3 linked regions of the Homo sapiens genome follow. The protein of the gene in region 1 binds, or shares a complex with, the protein of each later gene. Each region holds a gene or a part of one and is shown in the gene's direction. Other genes may lie near its edges.

Region 1 (7,124 bases):
ATGGTGGCTCACACGTGTAATCCCAGCACTTTGGGAGGCTGAGGCAGGCAGATTGCTTGAGGCCAGGAGTTCCAGACCAGCCTGGGCAACATGGTGAAAAGCCCGTCTCTACTAAAATTACAAATATTATCCGGGCATGGTGGTGCGTACCTGTTAGTCCCAGCTCCTCAGTGGGGGCTGAGGCAGGAGGATCACCTGAGCCTTGGGAGGTCAAGGCTGCATTGAGCTGTGATCCTGCTACTGCACTCCAGCCTGAGCTAGGGATTGCCACCCTGTCTCAAAGAAAAAGAACTTGTGGCAGAGTACTTAATGAGAAGTGTACTGGAATGGTGATTCCACATTTACTATAGTCATATGCTAAATTGTGCTTATTGGACTAGTGGATCACAAATATTGGCCATCCCATACCTACTAAACATTCTAGAACCCCTACTTTTCAGAAACTTCCCAAGTAATATAATAGAATGACTAGCTAGGTTTCGAAAGCAAGAATTAAAGACTTAATTCCCCAAGGCTGAAATCTGTACTGTCATCTTAGTAGTTTTCTGCATTAGCAAATCTAGATAAATAATGTGAGAATTGTTTTTTGTTGTTGTTGTTGTTTTGAGACGGAGGACGGAGTTTCACTCTTGTTACTCATACTGGAGTGCAGTGGCATGATCTGAGCTCACTGCAACCTCCGCCTCCTGGGTTCAATCGATTCTCCTGCCCCAGCCTCCCAAGTAGCTGGGATTACAGGCACCCGCCACCACGCCCAGCTAATTTTTTGTATTTTTAGTAGAGATGGGGTTTCACCATGTTGTCCAGGCTGGTCTTGAACTCCTGACCTCAGGTAATCCACCCGCTTCGGCCTCCCAAAGTGCTGGGATTACAGGCGTGAGCTAGTGCACCTGGCTGAAAATTGTTTTTGAGACAGGATCTTGCTTTGTTGCCCAGACTGTGTTGCAGTGGCACGATCAGAGTTCCCTGCAGCCTTGACCTCCTGGGCCAAGGAATCCTCCTGCCTCAGCCTCTGGAATAGTTGGGGCTACAGGCACACGCTACCATACCTGGCTAATTTTTGAAAAATTTTTTTGCTATGTTGTCCAGACTGTTCTTTAACTTCTGGGCTCCAGTGATCCTCCCACTTTGACCTCCCAAAGTGCTGGGATTACAGACATGAGCCACCGTGCCTGGCCCTGTTTTTGTTTTTTAAGATGAGGATTACTTACAAGCAAGCAGCCCTGATGCAGTGTTTACTTTTGTGTGTGTTCTTTTTCTGGTGTTTACCCAGATCCGTTTCCCCCCTTTAAAAAGAAAGAAAAACCACGGTTGTAGTTCTGTAACACTGTCCTCTCCTTCATTCTTTTTCTGGTTCTTGTCTAACCTTCTACATACAGGTAATTCCAATTTTCTGTTCATATCTCTCTTCATTTCTTTTCAGTGTAATGTAGAAGCTCTCAGAGCTTTGCCTGTGACATCTGTGCAGAAGAATTCCTATTGATATCTTTAGACCTCACTTCTCCAGAGCTTTTCCTGATTTTTCTTCTGCCTGCCCGTGTCTTCCCTGGTATATCTTACTGGCTTCCCCAGTTTGACATGTTGTAAATGGAATTATTCCTTACGTGAAGGCCTTACCCCAACTTTCTCTCCTGTTGTTCCTATTTCTTTTCATCATAATTGGCTTTAGTTTGACATTTTCTCTTTCTCCATTTTATAGGCAGTCAATTTATAAACCCCAATGAATTCTGGTTGTGTAGCATCTTTCCCATCTAGGCCAGGGGTTCTCAAAATTTTATATGCATCATAATCAGCTGGAGGTACTGTGAAACAGTTAGTTGTGCCCCACCTTCTAGAGTTTCTGATTCAATGGGTCTGGAGTAGATGTGAGAATTTGCGTTTCTAACAAGTTCCCAGATGATGTGGATGCCCTTGACCCAGTATGGAGTACAGAATGCCTTAAGACGGCATTCAGAACACTAAATAGTCAGTTTTAATCGGCCTTCTCTCCCACTGTGCTTTCCCATATCAGAAGTCAGATTTGGACTTCAGCATACTTGTTACTTAGTAGCTGTGTGATCTTAGGCAAATTGTTTAATTTTCTTTCTTTTATTTATTTTTTTCTTTTTTGAGACAGGAAGTAGTCTTTCTCTGTCACCCAGGCTGGAGTGCAGTAACACGATCTCTGCTCACTGCAGCCTCCGCCTTTCGGGTTCAAGCGATTCTTGTGCCTCAGCCTCCCAAGTAGCTGGGATTAGCCAGCCGCCGGTTTTTTTTGTTTTGTTTGTTTTTTGAGACAGAGTCTTGCTCTTTCGCCCAGGCTGGAGTGCAGTGGCACCGTCTTGGCTCACTGCAACCTCTGCCTCCTGGGTTCAAGCAGTTCTCCTGTCGCAGCCTCCTGAGTAGCTAGGACTACAGGCACCGCCACCACACCCGGCTAATTTTTGTATTTTTAGTAGAGACCGGGTTTCATCATGTTGGTCAGGCTGGTCTCGAATTCCTGACCTCAATTAATCCACCCTCTTCGGCCTCCCAAAGTGCTGGGATTACAGGTGTGAGCCACCATGCCTGGCCCAGCTGCAGGTTTTTTGAGGTCAGGAATCATGTCTTAATTGTCTTTGTACTTCCATCGCGTTTGGAGCGATGTGTCCATTGATAGGCGGTTAGTAAATGTTTGAAAAATTGGTTTATGTTATTTACTCTTCTTTCCCTTTTTTCATTCTTTTCAATTTCTTTGCACCCTTTCCCCTTCTTTCCTTTTTAATGAAAGTTTTAGTAAGCAAAATTATTAGCATACCCAACAATGGTTTGCTTTCCCTCCAACCTGTTGGTAGTGAGTGAGTAGTTAATTCACATTTTATTCCATAAAACGTTTTACTTTTTCTCCAGAGTAATTAAGTAGAAAATATGGCTCTTGGCCAGGCACGGTGGCTCTTGCCTGTAATCTCTGCACGTTGGGAGGCTGAGGTGGGTGGATAATTTGAGGCCAGGCGTTCGAGACCAGCCTGGCCAACATGGTGAAATCCCGTCTCTACTAAAAATACGAAAATCAGCCAGGCATGGTGGCAGGTTCTTGTAGTCCCAGCTACTCGGGAGGCTGAGGCATGAGAATCGCTTGAATCCGAGAGCCAGAGGTTGCAGTGAGCCAAGATCGCACCACTCCATTCTAGCCTGGGCGAAAGAGTGAGACTCTATTTATAAAAAAAGAAAGAAAGAAAAGACCCTTAATGACTTTTTCCCCTCTCTTAAAACCTGGTTGTATTAGTGACTTTGACATACATGTATATTGTTGACTTCGCCGTCTCCTGATGTTACTAATTTGAACAGTGACTATATATTGCCGTTACAGACCAGAAGGGAAAGATTTCAGCATTCATCGACTTGTCCTGGGGACACACACATCGGATGAACAAAACCATCTTGTTATAGCCAGTGTGCAGCTCCCTAATGATGATGCTCAGTTTGATGCGTCACACTACGACAGTGAGAAAGGAGGTAGGAATCTTAAAGGTGAAAGAAGTAAAGATGTGTGGGTCATATCTGTTATGTGCACTTTGATAAAGTAAACTCTGACTTTAGAAACAATATTTAAGGTTGAGGGAAAGCCTGAGTTTGCAATGGTAGGTATTTATATTTATATTAGAGTTTTAGGTATCAGAAGAAATACTTAACACATCCTTGGTTCTGTACCTTCACAATAAACTTTTCTCAGCTGGTGCTGGTGGGGAGGATTTCTGCAATTGAAAGAAGCAAAAATATATATTATTGCTGTACATTCTTGATTTTTTATTTTTTTACTCAGTCTCGCTCTATTGCCTAGGTTGGAGTGTAGTGGCACGATCTTCTCTCACTGCAACCTCCGCCTCCCGGGTTCAAGCGATTCTTCTGCCTCATCCTCCTGAGTAGCTGGGATTACAGGCGCCCGCCACCACGCCTAGTTAATTTTTGTATTTTTAGTGGAGACAGGGTTTCACCAAGTTGGCCAGGCTGGTCTTGAACTCCTGACCTCAGGTGATCCACCCACCTCAGCCTCTCAGAGTGCTGGAATTACAGGCGTGAGCCACTGCACCCATCCATATTGCTATACATTCTTAACACGGGAGATAACTACCCCTAAGGAGGTGAAAATTGGTTTGTGTATGTGAGTAGGTGTAAATAATCTTACTGGTTGATTGTTTAAAGCACAGATATGCACAGAGGACATAGGATATCTATGGTATTAAAATTTCATGGGACTGGTGGGGAGGGAATAGTTCTTAAAAGAGTTCTTAGAGGAGCAATAGTAAAAAAAAAAAAAAGGTTGAGAAACACTAACTTAAATTACCCTTTCTAGGTTTAAAGTGGTAGAAATGACTTAACCATGGCACTCTCTATGTGTATAGAAACTAAGTTCCAATGAGTTGTTTAATTATATCCTGTTTTTAGGCCATAACCTAAGGGTTTAACTGCTCATGAAATGCTTAAACGCTTTCCTTTTTTTTTTTTTGGAGATGGAGTCTCGCTCTGCTGCCCAGGCTGGAGTGCAGTGGCGCGATCTCAGTTCACTGCAACCTCCACCTCCCAGGTTCAAGCGATTCTCCTGCCTCAGCCTCCCAAGCAGCTGGGACTACAGGCATGCACCACCACGCCTGGCTAATTTTTTGTATTTTTAGTAGAGACAGGGTTTCATCATGTTGGTCAGGCTGGTCTCGAACTCCGGACCTCAAATGATCCTCCTGCCTTTTGTTCTTGTTACTGAGGCACAAATACTCTGATTGGTAGTGTGATAAATTGTAAAACTACATATATGTGTGTGTATATATTTATATTGTGTGTGTAAAATTATATGTGTAATTTTACACAATATAAATGTTATATTTATATATAAACATACGTATATATGTATGTATATGTAAAACTACATGCGTGTATATATTGTGTGTAAAATATAGTTATATATAATTTTAGATAATATAAATGTATTATATTTATATATAAATATATAAATTATATATGTAAAACTACATGTGTATATATTTATATTGTGTGTAATATATATAATTTATATATACATATAAATTTTATATATATAAAATATATGTAATTTTACACACACACAATATAAATGTATACACACACATATATGTGGTTTTACATATATATGTAATTTTACACACAATGTAAAAAACGCACCCCTTCTCCCATATAATAAACCTTTCCCTGGCCGGGTGCGGTGAGTCACTCCTGTAATCCCAGCACTTTGGGAGGCTGAGACCAGTGGATCACTTGAGGTCAGGAGTTCAAGACCAGCCTGGCCAACATAGTGAAACCCTGTCTCTACTAAAAATACAAAATTAGCCATGTGCAGTGGCACGCACCTGTAATCCCAGCTACTCAGGAGGCTGAGGCAAGAGCATCACTTGAACCCGGGAGGCAGAGATTGCAGTGAGCCGAGATCTCACCATTGCACTCCAGCCTGGGCAAAAAAAAAAAGGGAAACTCCGTCTCAAAAACAAAACAAAAGAAAAACCTTTCCCCTGGATATCACTTAAATGGATGTATTGTGATGTATTGTTTTCTGAAGGATTTATCCTGTGTATTGGATCACTCATTCAACAAATATGTTGAGTAATTTTGTATGCCAGGTATAGAATATGCAATATAGGTTCATAATTTGCTTTTATGGCCTAATATATCTGGGGCATGTATCTTTGTTAGTAGATGGAGACCTGCCTCCTTTTGATGGCTGTATAGTAGACCATAATTAACTATTCCTTACTGATAGACATTTAGATGGTTTCTAATTTTTTGACTTCAAAAGCATAGTTTTGCTATAGAAATACTTTCTAAGTAGAATGTTGTATCAAAGGGCAGGACCGTTTTTTAATATAATTGATACTGCTAAGTTGCACTCCAGAAAAAGATTTGAAGTCCCACAACAGCGTATGTATTTATGTCTGTTTCTCCATGCCTTTGCCAACACTGGACTCAGTAGAGTTCATTCTCAAGTTTACATTGCTTTTTTTATTTGTGATGTTGAGCTTACATCTCCTGTTTATTTATGTTTTTTGCCCGTATTTCCTTTTGAGTTACCTCTTCATATAAGGTAAATTATACCTTCTCCACCCAATAAATAGGTGCAGATCATTTTCTTGTTTAACTTAAAATCTTAAGTCCTGTTATTGGTTAGAAGCTGTAAGTTGCTTTTTTAATGGAGCCTTGCTCTGTCACCCAGACTGGAGTGCACTGGCATGATCTTAGCTGACTGCAGCCTCCTTATGGGCTCAAACGATCCTCCCACCTATGCCTCCCAAGTAGCTCTGGCTACAGACATACACCACCATACCTGGATTTTTATTTTATTTATTTATTTTTTTTGAGTCGGAGTCTGGCTCTGTCGCCCAGGCTGTAGTGCAGTGGCGCAATCTCTGCTCACTGCAACCTCCGTCTCCCAGATTCAAGCTATTCTCCTGATTCAGCCTCCCAAGTAGCTGGGATTACAGGCGCCCACCACCACACCCAGATAACTTAATTTTTTTTTTTTTTAAGAGATGGCATGTCACTATGTTGCTCAGGCTGATCTGGAACTCTGGCCTCAATCTTCCCACCTCAGACCTCCCATTCAATGATTTCATAAAGTATGTGTTCATCTATTGTTGTCTTCTGGGACTTTTATGTTTGGGCCATTAAAACTTTTGTCATTCTGGTATTTGGTATGGAATCAGAATCCAGCCTTTTTTTCCTAAATGATTGAGTTTTTGTTGTTATTTTGAGGCGGAGTCTTGCTTTGTCACCCAGGCTGGAGTGCAGTCACACAATCCCCGCTTACTGCAACCTCTGCCTCCTGGGCTCAAGCAGTCCTCCTGCCTCAGCGTCCTGAGTAGCTGGGATTGCAGGCATGCGCCACCATGCCCAGCTGATTTCCATTGTATTTTTTGTAGAGAGTAGGTCTCACCACGTTGCCCAGGCTGGTCTGAAAACTCCTGGGCTCTTGCAATTCACCCACTTTGGCTTCCCAAAGTTCTGGGCTTATAGGCATGAGCCACTATACTCAGCCAAAAAAATTTTTTTATTCAGTCAACCATTGATGGACACTTGGGTTGATTTCCGTATCTTTGGTATTGTGAATAATGCTACAGTGAACATACAAGTGCACGTGTCTTTTT
Region 2 (5,508 bases), about 190 Mb from region 1:
AAAGGATACAGTTATTCATTGAAGCATTATTGGTAATTAAAAAATATTAGAAATAAACATAAATGCCCACACATAGGGAACTGACTATTTATGGTACATCCACACAATTGAATACTATGCTGCTGTAAGAGAGGAAGTTCTCTATTTACTGACACAGAGTGATTTCCAGGATATGTTATTAGATGCAAAAAGCAAATACGAAAATACACATACATATTCCAAAGTATAACCTTTGGAGTAGGAAATAAGTGGAAATACAATGTATATGTATCAGCTTAATTTTTCAAAAGGAAGCAGAAAGGATACATTAGAAACTAATTTGGGAATGGGGTAGGAGTTGGTGAGCAAGAAGGAATGACATTTTTCTGAGTGTTTGTTTCCCCAACAAATACAAGTAAATGCAAACAGAAATAAATGAACCTAACTATATTTCAAAGGAGTGACATAAACTTACTGAAGGGGATAAAAACTGATTCAGATAGCTTGAACATAGCATAGGTTGAGCATCCCAAGTCTGAAATGCTCCAAAGTCCAAAATTTTTTGAGTGCCAAAGTGAAACTCAAAGGAAATGCTCCCTGGAGCAGTTTGGATTTTGGAGTTTTGTATTTGGGATTCTCAACCGGTAAGTATAATGCAAATATTCTAAAATTTTAAAAAATCCTAAATCCAAAACACTTCTGGTCCCAAGCATTTTGGATAAGGGATACTCAACTTATATTTTGACTGTATACCTTTAGTCTGAACCAAAATTTAAATAAACATTGAACTCTAGTTAGTAGAATTTTTTCTCTTGGTGGCATGCATAGCAGTCCTGAAACTCTTTTTTTTTTTTTTTTTTTTTGAGACGGATTTTCGCTCTTGTCCACCAGGCTGGAGTACAGGGGCGCAATCTCGGTTCACTGCAACCTCTGCCTCCGGGGTTCAAGCGATTCTCCTGCCTCAGCCTCCCCAGTAGCTATGATTACAGGCATGTACCACCATGCCCAGCTAATTTTTATATTTTTAGTAGAGACATGTTGGCCAGGCTGGTCTTGAACTCCTGACCTCAGGTGATCCACCCACCTCGGCCTCCCAAAGTACTGGGATTACAGGCATGAGCCACCACACCCAGCAGCAGTTCTGAAACTCTTACTGTGTACTCTAGGACTGAGCAAAGAAGCAAATAAGTATATTGAACCTGGGAGGCAGAGGTTGCAGTGAGCTGAGATCGCACCACTGCACTCCAGCCTGGGCAACAGAGTGAGACTGTCTCAAAAAAAAAAAAAAAAAATTTAGGATAACGCGAGCCAGGTTTCTCACTGTTGAAGAAGGCAGTTATGAAGAGGGGGAAGACTAGAGTGAACCCTGTGGCATTAGATGGGAATAGGGGGAATCAGTATGAATTCATGGTTTATTTTATCTTTATGCTATATGTATAAGTGAGTGTATATGTCTGCTGAGAGAGCCAAAAGCAAAGACACCCTAATAGCAAAGAACACACTAGACCCAGATCTTGGTCTCTTATCTCTGTTCTCCAATTTAAAAAAGCAGGACTTCTTGAAAAAGAGACTGATTCCAGACCTGAGGCAGAGAAAGAAGATGAGCCCGGCCCACCTTATTATGCCAAGGAAGTAAAATGTGCCCCCAAATTACGGGGACGTGTCAAAAAGGGCCAGCTTGACAGGGTTCCCACTGGCCAAATCTGGGACAATTTGAGCTTCAGAATAAATAAATATAGTAAGAGATTATAACCCATAGAATAAAAGTTATGTCAGTATGGGTTCATACTGATACTAGTTCATTTTTTAAGGGAAACTACTTTGTAGTAAAATGCCAACTAATAAATATAGAAGCAGTGTTAAGAGTGAGAAAAACACCATTTTGCAACCATCATAGTAATAATTGATATAGACAAGAATCATCAACAGATGCTAAAATTGGTAGGTAAAAGTTTGATGACAAATAGGATGTTTACATAGCCTCAAAGTATCTCTTCACAACTACTTAGTACTTACAAAAAGGAAATCCTTTACTGTAGGGAAATCTGGCAGACACTTAACTTACCAATTGATCAAAGAGAACATCACCAGTAATGGGACAGGTCAACATCACGTGCCTTCTAATAAAGATGCCAGAGAACTCAGCACCACATTTGTAGTATTTCTGCCCAAAAATGCATAACTTCAGTCTAATCATAAGGAAACAAACAAACCCACATTGGGGGATATTACACAAAATAATTGGCTCGTACTCTTCAAAAATACCAAGGAAATACAAACTGGAGTGATTAGAGGTAATGAGGCACAGTGTTTGCAACTTATTCTTAAATTAGTAACGGGAAGAATTATACATTCACAGAGATCAAATGGCAGATCAAATGTAGTAAAACATAAACAGTAAATCTGAGTAAATGTTATCAAGAGTTCTTTGTTTTATTCTTTTAACTTTTTTTAGAAGTTTGAAATTATATCAAAATTAAAAATTACAAAAAATAGAAAATCAGAAACTGTTAAAGGAAAAAAACTTCTAAGGTAAGAGTACCACTTTAGTTTTAAATGCTAGTTTTATAAAAATTAAAATCTGAAAAGAGGGCACAAACACATACAGAAATAATCATGGCTTCTCGAACATGCGTCTCATGCTTCAATCATCTGTATTCAGCTTGCTCCAGACCAGGGGCTCCAGCCTGCAGATCAGCCAACAGATATGAGACGCAGGTGTGAGGAAGAAGCACAGGAAATTGTTCGGCATGCAAATTCCTCAACAGGACAGCCCTGCGTTGAAAATGAAAATCTGACAGACTTAATTTCCAGGCTTACAGCTATTTTGTTACAAATTAAGGTAAATCTTAGAGAAAATATTTTCTTAATTTGACACAAAGCAACCCACGCTAATTTGTTGCTAAGAAATTAATTCATTGATTATATCAGGTATTTTATGACTATATTTGAGCTATAATGCAATTAAATTTTGAAATTTTTTTCCCTTTAGTGTCTAGCAGAAGGAGGAGACCTGAATTCCTTTGAATTCAAATCACTTACAGACTCATTAAATGATATCAAGAGTACAATAGACGCTTCTAATATCAGGTAATTCGTTAGGTATACTCTAATCATTTTAATGTGAAGTTCATAGTAATTTTCAGTCCAGGTTTTAAGAATTATGCATATTTGTGAAGTACTCATATATTATTATCCGTTAAATATATTTGTAAGAGCTTTTCACTTATATCCAGCCTATGGACAGAATAGAAATTTCACATGGATTTTGTATATAAAGAAATCAGGACATATATTTAGGTTTGGGGTCAGCATGGAGGTTGAGCTTAGAGGTAGAGCTTCCCCAGTCAGTGAGAGACTCATCTTCTCCTTCCAGCCCCCCGTGGCTCCTTTGCTTCTTTAGAGCATATTTGTTCAACTACTACTGAAGTAGAATTATGGCTAATATATTAGAGGAGATTTATTCCTTCCCTAAGATTTATCATAGCTGTTTCCTAACTAAAATTCAGGTCTTCTTTTAAAAATTTTTTTCTTAATTTTTTGAAATAAAGTAGTTAACCATGTTTCTTCTTTCTTTAGTTGCTTTCAGAATAATGTAGAAATCCATGTTGCACATATTCAGAGTGGCCTGAGCCAGATGGGAAACTTACATGCCTTTGCAGCAAATAACACCAACAGAGACTGAGTAAAGATTTCATTATTCCAACTGCACGGGACATTGTTTTTGAGAAGTTCTTTTCCTTTATATAGGCTTCCAACACCAAATAACCTAACTGCTGGAAAACAAGGGAAATTTAAATCTCCAAATAAGGCATTTTAATAGACTGTACTGCTTCTTAAACCAGCATTGCTGACCAGCATTATATTTATTTTTCTTTTATTATTCAGATGCAGTAGCATTGCTTATGTTACATATGTTTATATTCACAAATATTTTTAAACTGAAATATCTGAACATAATATAATTTCGTGGAAGAATACATTGACCATTTTTTTTAATGTGCATGAATTCACCGCAACACATGCAGACAACTGCTGCAATGGAGAGTATGAAGAAACCTGGTCTTTTTATTCATGTCGGTGGCAGTGTGGAAATTCCATCCAGAAAATTACAACTCCACTTGATTTAGTTGATCACCATCTCAGTCTTCAAAAGATAACATCATGAGGTGTGGGAAGTCCTAGTTTTAAGGAAACCACTGAAATATAGATGGGAAATGTGGACTTTACAAGTATATGTTATATATACTTGCAATGTGACATGGTTCTGTAGATCATTTTATAATAATAAATATTTTAATTTATCATAACATATAAAAGAAACCTTTGTTGTTTGTTGAAAGAAAATGAAGGAACAGGGGGAAAAAAGGTGCAAAATGCTAAATTTCTAAAAATGGATTTGGCATGTCTTCCCATCAGTTCAGGTCAAAAGTGCATTGTTGTGAGATTTATTAAAAAAAAAATGATAACACACTATTTTCATATTTTTTTGTTTATTTGCACAACTTTTAAACCAGATTACTGGTTAAAATCCAACAGTACACAATTTATAAAGTAAAAAGATTTTATAAGGAAAACAAATATAATAACCAGTGCTGTGAAATGCAGAAGAAAGGCTTGTTTTGGTTGTTTTTCTTTTTTAGGAAAACGCTGCCTAAAATGTTAATCTTGTAAAAAGTATGTATTTGGAATTTTCTTCGTTTTAATAGAATATTATAAACTCAAAATATAAATTTTTTTCAAATTTGGAGTTTAAGATATAGCTGTAGAGGTGGTTTTAATTCCTTTAGATGTCTCATAAAATGAGACTTTTTATATGTTAATGTATAATAAAACTGAAACAAGATTATTTTCCATTTGAAATTTTTGTATAGTTTAAAAAGGCTTCCGTATTCTTTGTTGGTATTGTGCCACTGCAGAACTTTAGTGCAGAGTTTATATTTAGCTAAACTGTTATGTTAATTAAGAAATGCATAAATCTTCTATTCTTAATATTTGTAATTCTAAATAAATTGATCTATGAAAATTATTATTTTCTATATTTTCATTTAATTCAAGTCAATATGCATTCCTTCTGTTTAAAAAGTTTTGAAGAATTGTAATTTCCATTAAGTTATATTTTTAGGGGAAACAGTACAGATTACCGAGTCTCTCTGAAGTACCATACCATCCAATGGTATGGATTTTATTTATTACCATACCATACCATCCAGTGATACGGATTTTATTTATTACCATACCATCCAGTGGTATGGTATTAAGCAGGTAAGTTATTTGGCCTGGTATAGACCTAGTGAAAGGTTGATTTTAATATATTCTGCCTAGAATTGGGTATTTTGTGCATTTTTTCTTTTACATTTCTTTTTTTTTTTCTCTGTCGCCCAGGCTGGAGTGCAGTGATGCAATCTCAGCTCACCACAACCTCCAGGTCTTGGGTTCAAGGGATTCTTCCACCTCAGCCTCCTGAGTAGCTGGGATTACAGGCACGCGCCACCACGCCTGGCTAATTTTTGTATTTTTAGTAGAAAC
Region 3 (7,000 bases), on another chromosome or scaffold:
CTTGCAGTGCATAGGCAAGGAAGGGGAAGATCATCCTGTAATCAGCATATCTAATATTGTCCTTTTAATACTGCACCAACCCCTGGACTGGAGTGTTCTGAGTCAACTCACAGCTTCGCCCAGCAAACCAGGATGCAGAATTTTCAGTGTGCCTTTAAACTGTATTTTGTTATATGCTTTAGCATAGTAGCCAAAAAATAAATAAATAAATAAAAAGGCATGTTGACTGCAACCAGGACTTCATATAGAGTGTCTCTTGGCAGAATCTATTTAAAACTTGTTCATAATTTGTCTCACTCTAAATTCTCATTATGTGAATACAAATATTCTCATGTCACAATAGAGGTAAGGAAAAGCTAGTGAGAGAAGCACCTTCTTTGCGAGACTGTACTTCATGATTTCAGTGGTTCAATATATTCCCAAAGGACCGTCATGGGCATGTGTATTATGGTAAACTGGGGAGACTTTGACTTTCTAAAGTTATTATTATTAATATTCATAGGGCATGTTTTAAGAAACAGCACTGATCAAATTCATAAGGAGTGAGTTTCCAAATAAGTTGCTAGATAAACAATAATCTTTGTCATAAAAGGCTTTCTGCTCCACACAGGTACAGCAACATCGTCGCCTCATTCTGAACTGGAAAGTACAGGTGCGATTCTGGATGACAAAGAAGATGCTTACTTCACAGAAATTCGAAATTTCATTGGGAACAGCAACCATGGCAGCCAATCTCCCAGGAATGTGGAGGAGAGGTAAAGCTGTCTTTTACTTTTTAAACTCTGTGACGACTGAAATGAACATGTTTTAAAATATACTTGCTATGCTCACTTTTGTGGCACTACTATTACTTCAGTCACCAAAGACTGGTATATATTTAGTACATATTAAATACCACATTAAATGCTTCCAAGCATTTTACATGTGTTAATTAATTTAATTTCATCATAACCCTATGAGATAGCCACTATAATTTTAGCAGTGAAGGAATGGAGACATTGAAGCTTAAACCATTGTGTCAGAGGTCACATAAGTAATCAATGGGATTCAACCTGAGCTCTCTGGTTCCAGAGCCCATAATTTTACCAGGATTTAGCTATCTGATAGCTGAATAGAATCTGTTATCAAAATTTCAGAAGTAGAAGAGAAAGCCGTCACAGGGATTCAGTTGAATCACTGATCAATAGTGGCTACTATTATACATCATAAATTATATATATTACAGGTAATATATGATTCTATATACCTGTATTATACATAAATACATATATGTATATTCTGTATATATGTAATATACATATTATAGTACATATGTATGTATGCATTTATATATGAAATACCCATGGAGTTTCCCCCAAATATATTTTACATAGAAGCTTTTATAGTCTTCTTAAGATTCTATTGCTACTTTATGTCCTCTTAAGTGACTACTCATTTAATTCTGGTCTGTTTGTTTCAGTGGGTATGAACATCCTTGTTTTTACTGCCCTGATGCACTGGCTCCCTTTTATCATCACCAACATTAAGCATGAATAGCTTAATTCATTTAAAAAAGCTTTTAATGCTGTTAATGATAATACTTAACAGTTACCCAGCACTTCACATTGCATATGAAGTTAATGAAACACTATTTCACCAAAACTACTGGATTTAATTTTTCTTATCTGTAAGCTATAATTAAATATCTATTGTTGAGAAGTAGACTTTTCTGAACACGACTATATAGTGACCTATTAAATTCAGATGCTACATTGTAAATTTCAAAATAACATGAAATTAGTTAAAAGTTCCATTATTTTTCATCATACAAGTATTATTGGATTAGTGTCCTCTGTTTTTGATGTTATCAAAAGTCAAAATTAATTATTTTATGTAATTTTTTCAAGGCAAACATCAAATAAACATTTTTTACTAAAATAACAAAAAAAATGACCACTTCTGTTTTTCAACTTGTATAAAAGTGTATCAAAGAAAAACAAGAAAAAAGACCCTTCCAGTCTCTGAGAAGTCTGATAACTACACCAGTGTGCAGTTGGATGTACCTTTCCCTTTACTTGCCCATTTGTGTGTGTGTGTGCGTGTCTGTCTGTCTGTTTGTGAAAGGGAGAGAGGAAGCAGATGATCAGAAGGACAAAGTAGCAAGAACAAGCAAGAAACAGTGACGATCTTATACTTTGATAATGATATTTACTTGATGCAAATAAGAACTGTTGAACAAAACACACCATTTGGGTTCTGAGATGCCTATTCAAATTTTCTAGCCTTTAATTGGCGATTTGTGAGCCTGTATAGTTGCAACATCTGGCTTCAGCATGTCTAAACAGCACAGAAATAAGAAGGTTGAGTCATCTAAGTTTTTCCCCTGAACTCCTACCAGGCTACTTTTGATGAATAATTTATTCTCTGTAAATTGCCACATTTGAAAACTTAATTAACAAATAGATTTTCTTAATTATGTTGGCTTTTGTTACTTTTGATTTTCATCCATGCACTCTTTTTGTTCTTTTACTTTTTCTTTCTTTTTTTTAAATAAAAATTTTAATCCACTCATGCAAGCAAGTTGGCAGTGTGTTTGGAAACTAATTTATGTCTGTGCAAAAGATGTTTTCACCATTCTTTGATAAAAGAGGTTAAGCGATTGTTTTTATTAAAAGCTTAATAATGATATGACTTTTTCTGGTCAAATGGATTTTTACTATGTGTGTTTGTCACATCCAAGATTGTTTTATTTATTTTTTAATCCTGGGAAATCTGAATATTAAATTATACTCATTTTTGTTATGTGGGAAAGTGATGGGGGTACATTGTAATACCTGAGCTTTTTCCACCCTGGCGTTTTCCTGAGAAACAAGGAACTATTTCACATTCAGACTGTAAAAAATAATTTGAAAATAGTACAAATAAGTGAGCTGTCAATTACTTCCAAATATGGGTAGAGTGGTTAGGTGGAATGTACCACAAATGTCATCTAGTATCAGTAAATACCAGTTGTTTCTTGGTAACTACTTTAACATTGTCTTTGGACTTTTAGAGTCACTTTAGGCATGTGTATTGTAGCTACGGCCCATGAGTGATATGAATTTTCCAGAAATCTATTATTTTAAATGGTGGGTACTTACATGGCAATTAGGTAAATTGTGCTGAGAACATACTTATGTGCCTTTTTATATGATATATATAGCAATATCAATTATCAAGCAAAGTCTGATAAGAAATGGGAGACCAAGATTGTTTTTCGGGTTCTGCCAGAGGCTTCATTTATAATCTGAACAATCATACAATTATTTTTTTCTTTATCTTCCCATTTGTGAAGTCACATTATTTTTTCATGGTTGACGTAGAGCATAAACAATAAAACATTTCCGATGTTAAGTGTTGAAAATCTAAACTGTTGTTGGGAAGACATAATAAAGGAACAAATTACAATTTTAAAAATGAAACCAACAATTGGACTTTTTTTTTAATGCTTTTGAAAGAATGAATGGCAGTCATTTTAAAGATGAAAAGGCTTTGGTGACCAGTCAAAATTCAGACTTGCTGGATGATGAAGAAGTTGAAGATGAGGTGTTGTTAGATGAGGAGGATGAAGACAATGATATTACTGGAAAAACAGGAAAGGAACCAGTGACAAGTAATTTACATGAAGGAAACCCTGAGGATGACTATGAAGAAACCAGTGCCCTGGAGATGAGTTGCAAGACATCCCCAGTGAGGTGAGTACCTTGGGTGACTTTAGAAACTAAGCTAGAGTAGATCCATGTACGGTTGCAATTCCTCCTGTGATAAGCAATTTGTGAGTTATAAATCACAAAAATTAAACTTGAATTAGTAAGGGATACATGGTGGATCAGATTTAAATAGATGAAAATAAGGTGGCTATCAACATAATCCACAAGCATATAAATACATCAGGTTTGGTGCAACTCTGATTAACCTGAGGTGGGAAAGATAAAATGAAAATTACATAAGTACACAATCATTTATTGTTAGACTCTACCTATAAAACTCAAAGAAAAATAGAGATTTTGACGTTATCTAATTATACAATAATCTGGCATGGTCATCAGTTAAGTATAATTGAGATAAACTTCACTTCAGTAGATATATATGTGATCTATATAGATGATAACTTTTTAAATGAAAAGAAATAACCAAACAGTTAAATTGATGGGACTATTATATTTTCATGATGGATGTTGACTAAATATTGTCATAATTAGCTTTACTTTAAATGGAAATAATGAATATATGAATTCTGTCTCTGCCTATTACTGACTAATGTGTCACTGACTTTAACTCTTTATCTCAAATATATGCTTGGCTTTAGTTACTAAAAATCTTAACAGAAATATATTTTTAAGACATGATGTTTGTAAGTATTTATAAAAACCCAATAATTGATGCATGCTACTTTACCTTGCAGATACAATATGAAGTTTGTCAGTTGTATAGATAGATTCAAATGAAAGTGATTTGATTAGATAACAAATGAAAAGAAAATTTCTGTGTTTTTCGTTGGTTCATTTTAGGTATAAAGAGGAAGAATATAAAAGTGGACTTTCTGCTCTAGATCATATAAGGCACTTCACAGATAGCCTCAAAATGAGGAAAATGGAAGATAATCAATATTCTGAAGCTGAGCTGTCTTCTTTTAGTACTTCCCATGTGCCAGAGGAACTTAAGCAGCCGTTACACAGAAAGTCCAAATCGCAGGTACAGATTTTCCCATAGTACAGCATCATGGTTACATTATGCATGAAACGTACATTTCCTTTGATTACCAAAAAGCAAATATTCTATCTTTGAAATATTTTAGAATCCAAATGGGGTCAGATGCCTTTCTAAAAATGTTCATATCTTTACTGTATTTATGACCAAATCCAAAATAGTTAAGCAAGAAAGCAATTAATTTAGCTGCATTCTGTATAGAAATTTTATGACAAGCCCCATCCTACACTTATCTTTCCTTGACTTTGCAATTCTCTTACTTTTGTACAGTTAGTTCATCATGTTTGTTTACAAATATTTATGTATTACCTCAGAGTCATTTTCCGTGTCTATACTTTTGTCAATGTAATTATATTTTAAGATTTTTCTGAAAAGTGAATTCTATTTTTTGTCCCCTTCTATGTCTAGTAAATTGTTAGGTGTAGTTAATTAGCAAGTCATCTCATGTTGTAATTTAATAGTAAAATGAGGATCAGAAAGGAAGTGAGTTGCCAAAGGTCTACACCAACTTACTGGCAGATTTGGAAATAAAACCTGTCAATTTAAATTCAACAAATGAATGAGTGAATGAATGGTACTCAAATTTATTAGGCTCTACAACATTGTATCAGCACTATGGTAACTAAAAATAAATCTATTTAAGGGTCCATAAATAGCAATTAAAAGAGCCTCAGTGTTTTTGTTACAAAATAAAGGAAGTCGGTACTTTTTTGTTTGACATCCACACTCAACCGGATTGTTCATTCAGGTCAATTAAAAATAAAGAAACTTCCTATTACCATATTTATTGGGCACTGTGGTCTAATTGCCTGATCCATTAGTTCATTTTGTATGTGGCCTGACCTGCAATGTGACCATATTAGTTTGTACATTTGGAAATGATTTTCTATTTGGGTAAGATGTCTGGGTTTGTCTTAACAGCAAATGTAATAATATCCCAAGGAAGTTGGGAAAAACATTGTGTCAATGGGATAATACAAATCATTAAATAATATTCAATTTAGTAAAAAGTTCTGAGATATTATGTATGGTAATAGGTAAAATAAATGTTCTTTCTCAACTGAAGTTAAAGCAGCCACCATCTACAGAGGCTCCTAGAGCCTACCTCCATGAACTTAAGAACATCACTTAAAGACTATAGGTACCATTTCTTCATTGTAAAAGGGGTAAGTGGATTTTTATTCAATGGGGATAAAAATGAAGTTTCCAGTTTTTAACATTAAAGGTAAACTAGCTAGAGTAGACATTTCATTTTTACTTAGAGACATCCATAAGGGGTGGCTAGTATTTTTTTTTAACCCTTGATTTCCCATTCTTCCATCCTTGTTGATTAGAGATAACTTGAGTATCAAGGTTTTTGGTTTTTTGTTACTTGTTTCTTTGTTTTTGAGACAGGGTCTCACTCAGCTGCTAAGACTGGAGTGCAGTGGTGCAATCACGGCTCACTATAGCCTCGACTTGCTGGGCTCAAGTGATCCTCCCACCTCAGGCATCTGGATAACCGGGACTATTGACACTCACCACTATGCCAGGCTAATTTTTCAATTTTGTGTAGAGATGGGGTTTCACTATGTTGCCCAGGCTGGTCTCAAATTCCTGAGCTCAAGCAATCCTCCCACCTCAGCCTCCCAAATTACTGGGATTTGTATAGGTGTGACCCATTGCACCTGGCCATGGTTTTTTCTTTTTAAATTTCTTTTAATTAGTCCACCAAAAATGCTTCTTATTTATTGTAAGATATAATACCTAAACACTCCAGAAACTGCCAGAAGTGACAGAAAGCAAAAGGGCCTGAAAACCTACAGATAAGGGATATAATTATAATACATTTTAGTACCAGCATTTTGACATAAAGTCCCAACCCAGCTGGACTGTTACTGTTATAAGAAACACTAGCATTTTGCAATCCTAAGTCATATTTTTCTTGTTACTTGATCATGTTATATAGATTAGTTTGAAAATGGTCAGGCCCTTTTGCAAATTCACTTTATTTCATAATATCATTCATTCGTTCATTTATTAACTACCAGCTATATGCTGGGCACTGATCCTTATATATGAAAATGTTTATTTCCTTTGATTACCAAAAGGCAGATATGCTGTTTTGCCATTTTCTAGAATCTAAAGGCTCAGATGCTTTAGTCAAAGCATTCATATATTTATTCTGTAATTTTTATAGTCTGTAATTTTTATAGTGATTGAATTGAAAATAGTTGACCAGTACAATAGTAGCTGCATTTTGCATGTGCTCTCCCTCAAGAAACTCTATCCG

The links. Proteins that work in one complex are often made in the same cells at the same time.
Region 2: the proteins of RBBP4 (region 1) and LIN9 are in contact, whole or in part, in a crystal structure (PDB 7N40), measured with the Homo sapiens proteins. Residues at the interface, in NP_005601.1 of Homo sapiens: Ala11, Glu14, Arg15, Val16, Ile17, Asn18, Glu19, Glu20, Tyr21, Lys22, Ile23, Trp24, Lys25, Lys26, Asn27, Pro29, Phe30, Leu31, Tyr32, Asp33, Thr37, Ala39, Leu40, Glu41, Trp42, Pro43, Glu75 (codon at 3,387), Pro87 (codon at 3,423), Asn88 (codon at 3,426), Asp89 (codon at 3,429); in NP_001353174.1 of Homo sapiens: Phe107, Arg108, Asn111, Leu112, Lys114, Leu115, Lys117, Ala118, Lys120, Trp121, Ile123, Tyr124, Glu125, Trp126, Phe127, Tyr128, Leu135, Phe136, Asp139, Asn140, Asp141, Phe142, Cys143, Leu146, Arg156, Lys157, Leu158, Thr159, Arg160, Val161.
Region 3: the proteins of RBBP4 (region 1) and MECOM are in contact, whole or in part, in a crystal structure (PDB 6BW3), measured with the Homo sapiens proteins. Residues at the interface, in NP_005601.1 of Homo sapiens: Ala39, Leu40, Glu41, Trp42, Pro43, Leu45, His71 (codon at 3,375), Thr72 (codon at 3,378), Ser73 (codon at 3,381), Asp74 (codon at 3,384), Glu75 (codon at 3,387), Glu126, Asn128, Arg129, Glu179, Tyr181, Asp198, Val229, Glu231, Asp248, Glu275, Asn277, Phe321, Glu395, Asn397; in NP_001353395.1 of Homo sapiens: Met1, Arg2, Lys4, Gly5, Arg6, Ala7, Arg8, Lys9, Leu10.

What each region holds. Positions count from the first base shown.
Region 1 is NC_000001.11:32,654,099-32,661,222, forward strand, and holds part of RBBP4 (histone-binding protein RBBP4), read left to right. Parts: intron 1-3,328; coding exon 3,329-3,474; intron 3,475-7,124. UniProt on the Homo sapiens protein: Core histone-binding subunit that may target chromatin assembly factors, chromatin remodeling factors and histone deacetylases to their histone substrates in a manner that is regulated by nucleosomal DNA.
Region 2 is NC_000001.11:226,230,657-226,236,164, reverse strand, and holds the end of LIN9 (protein lin-9 homolog), read left to right. Parts: intron 1-2,641; coding exon 2,642-2,821; intron 2,822-2,971; coding exon 2,972-3,069; intron 3,070-3,558; coding exon 3,559-3,664; 3' UTR 3,665-5,008; downstream 5,009-5,508. UniProt on the Homo sapiens protein: Acts as a tumor suppressor. Inhibits DNA synthesis. Its ability to inhibit oncogenic transformation is mediated through its association with RB1. Plays a role in the expression of genes required for the G1/S transition.
Region 3 is NC_000003.12:169,086,713-169,093,712, reverse strand, and holds part of MECOM (histone-lysine N-methyltransferase MECOM), read left to right. Parts: intron 1-610; coding exon 611-755; intron 756-3,476; coding exon 3,477-3,713; intron 3,714-4,529; coding exon 4,530-4,713; intron 4,714-7,000.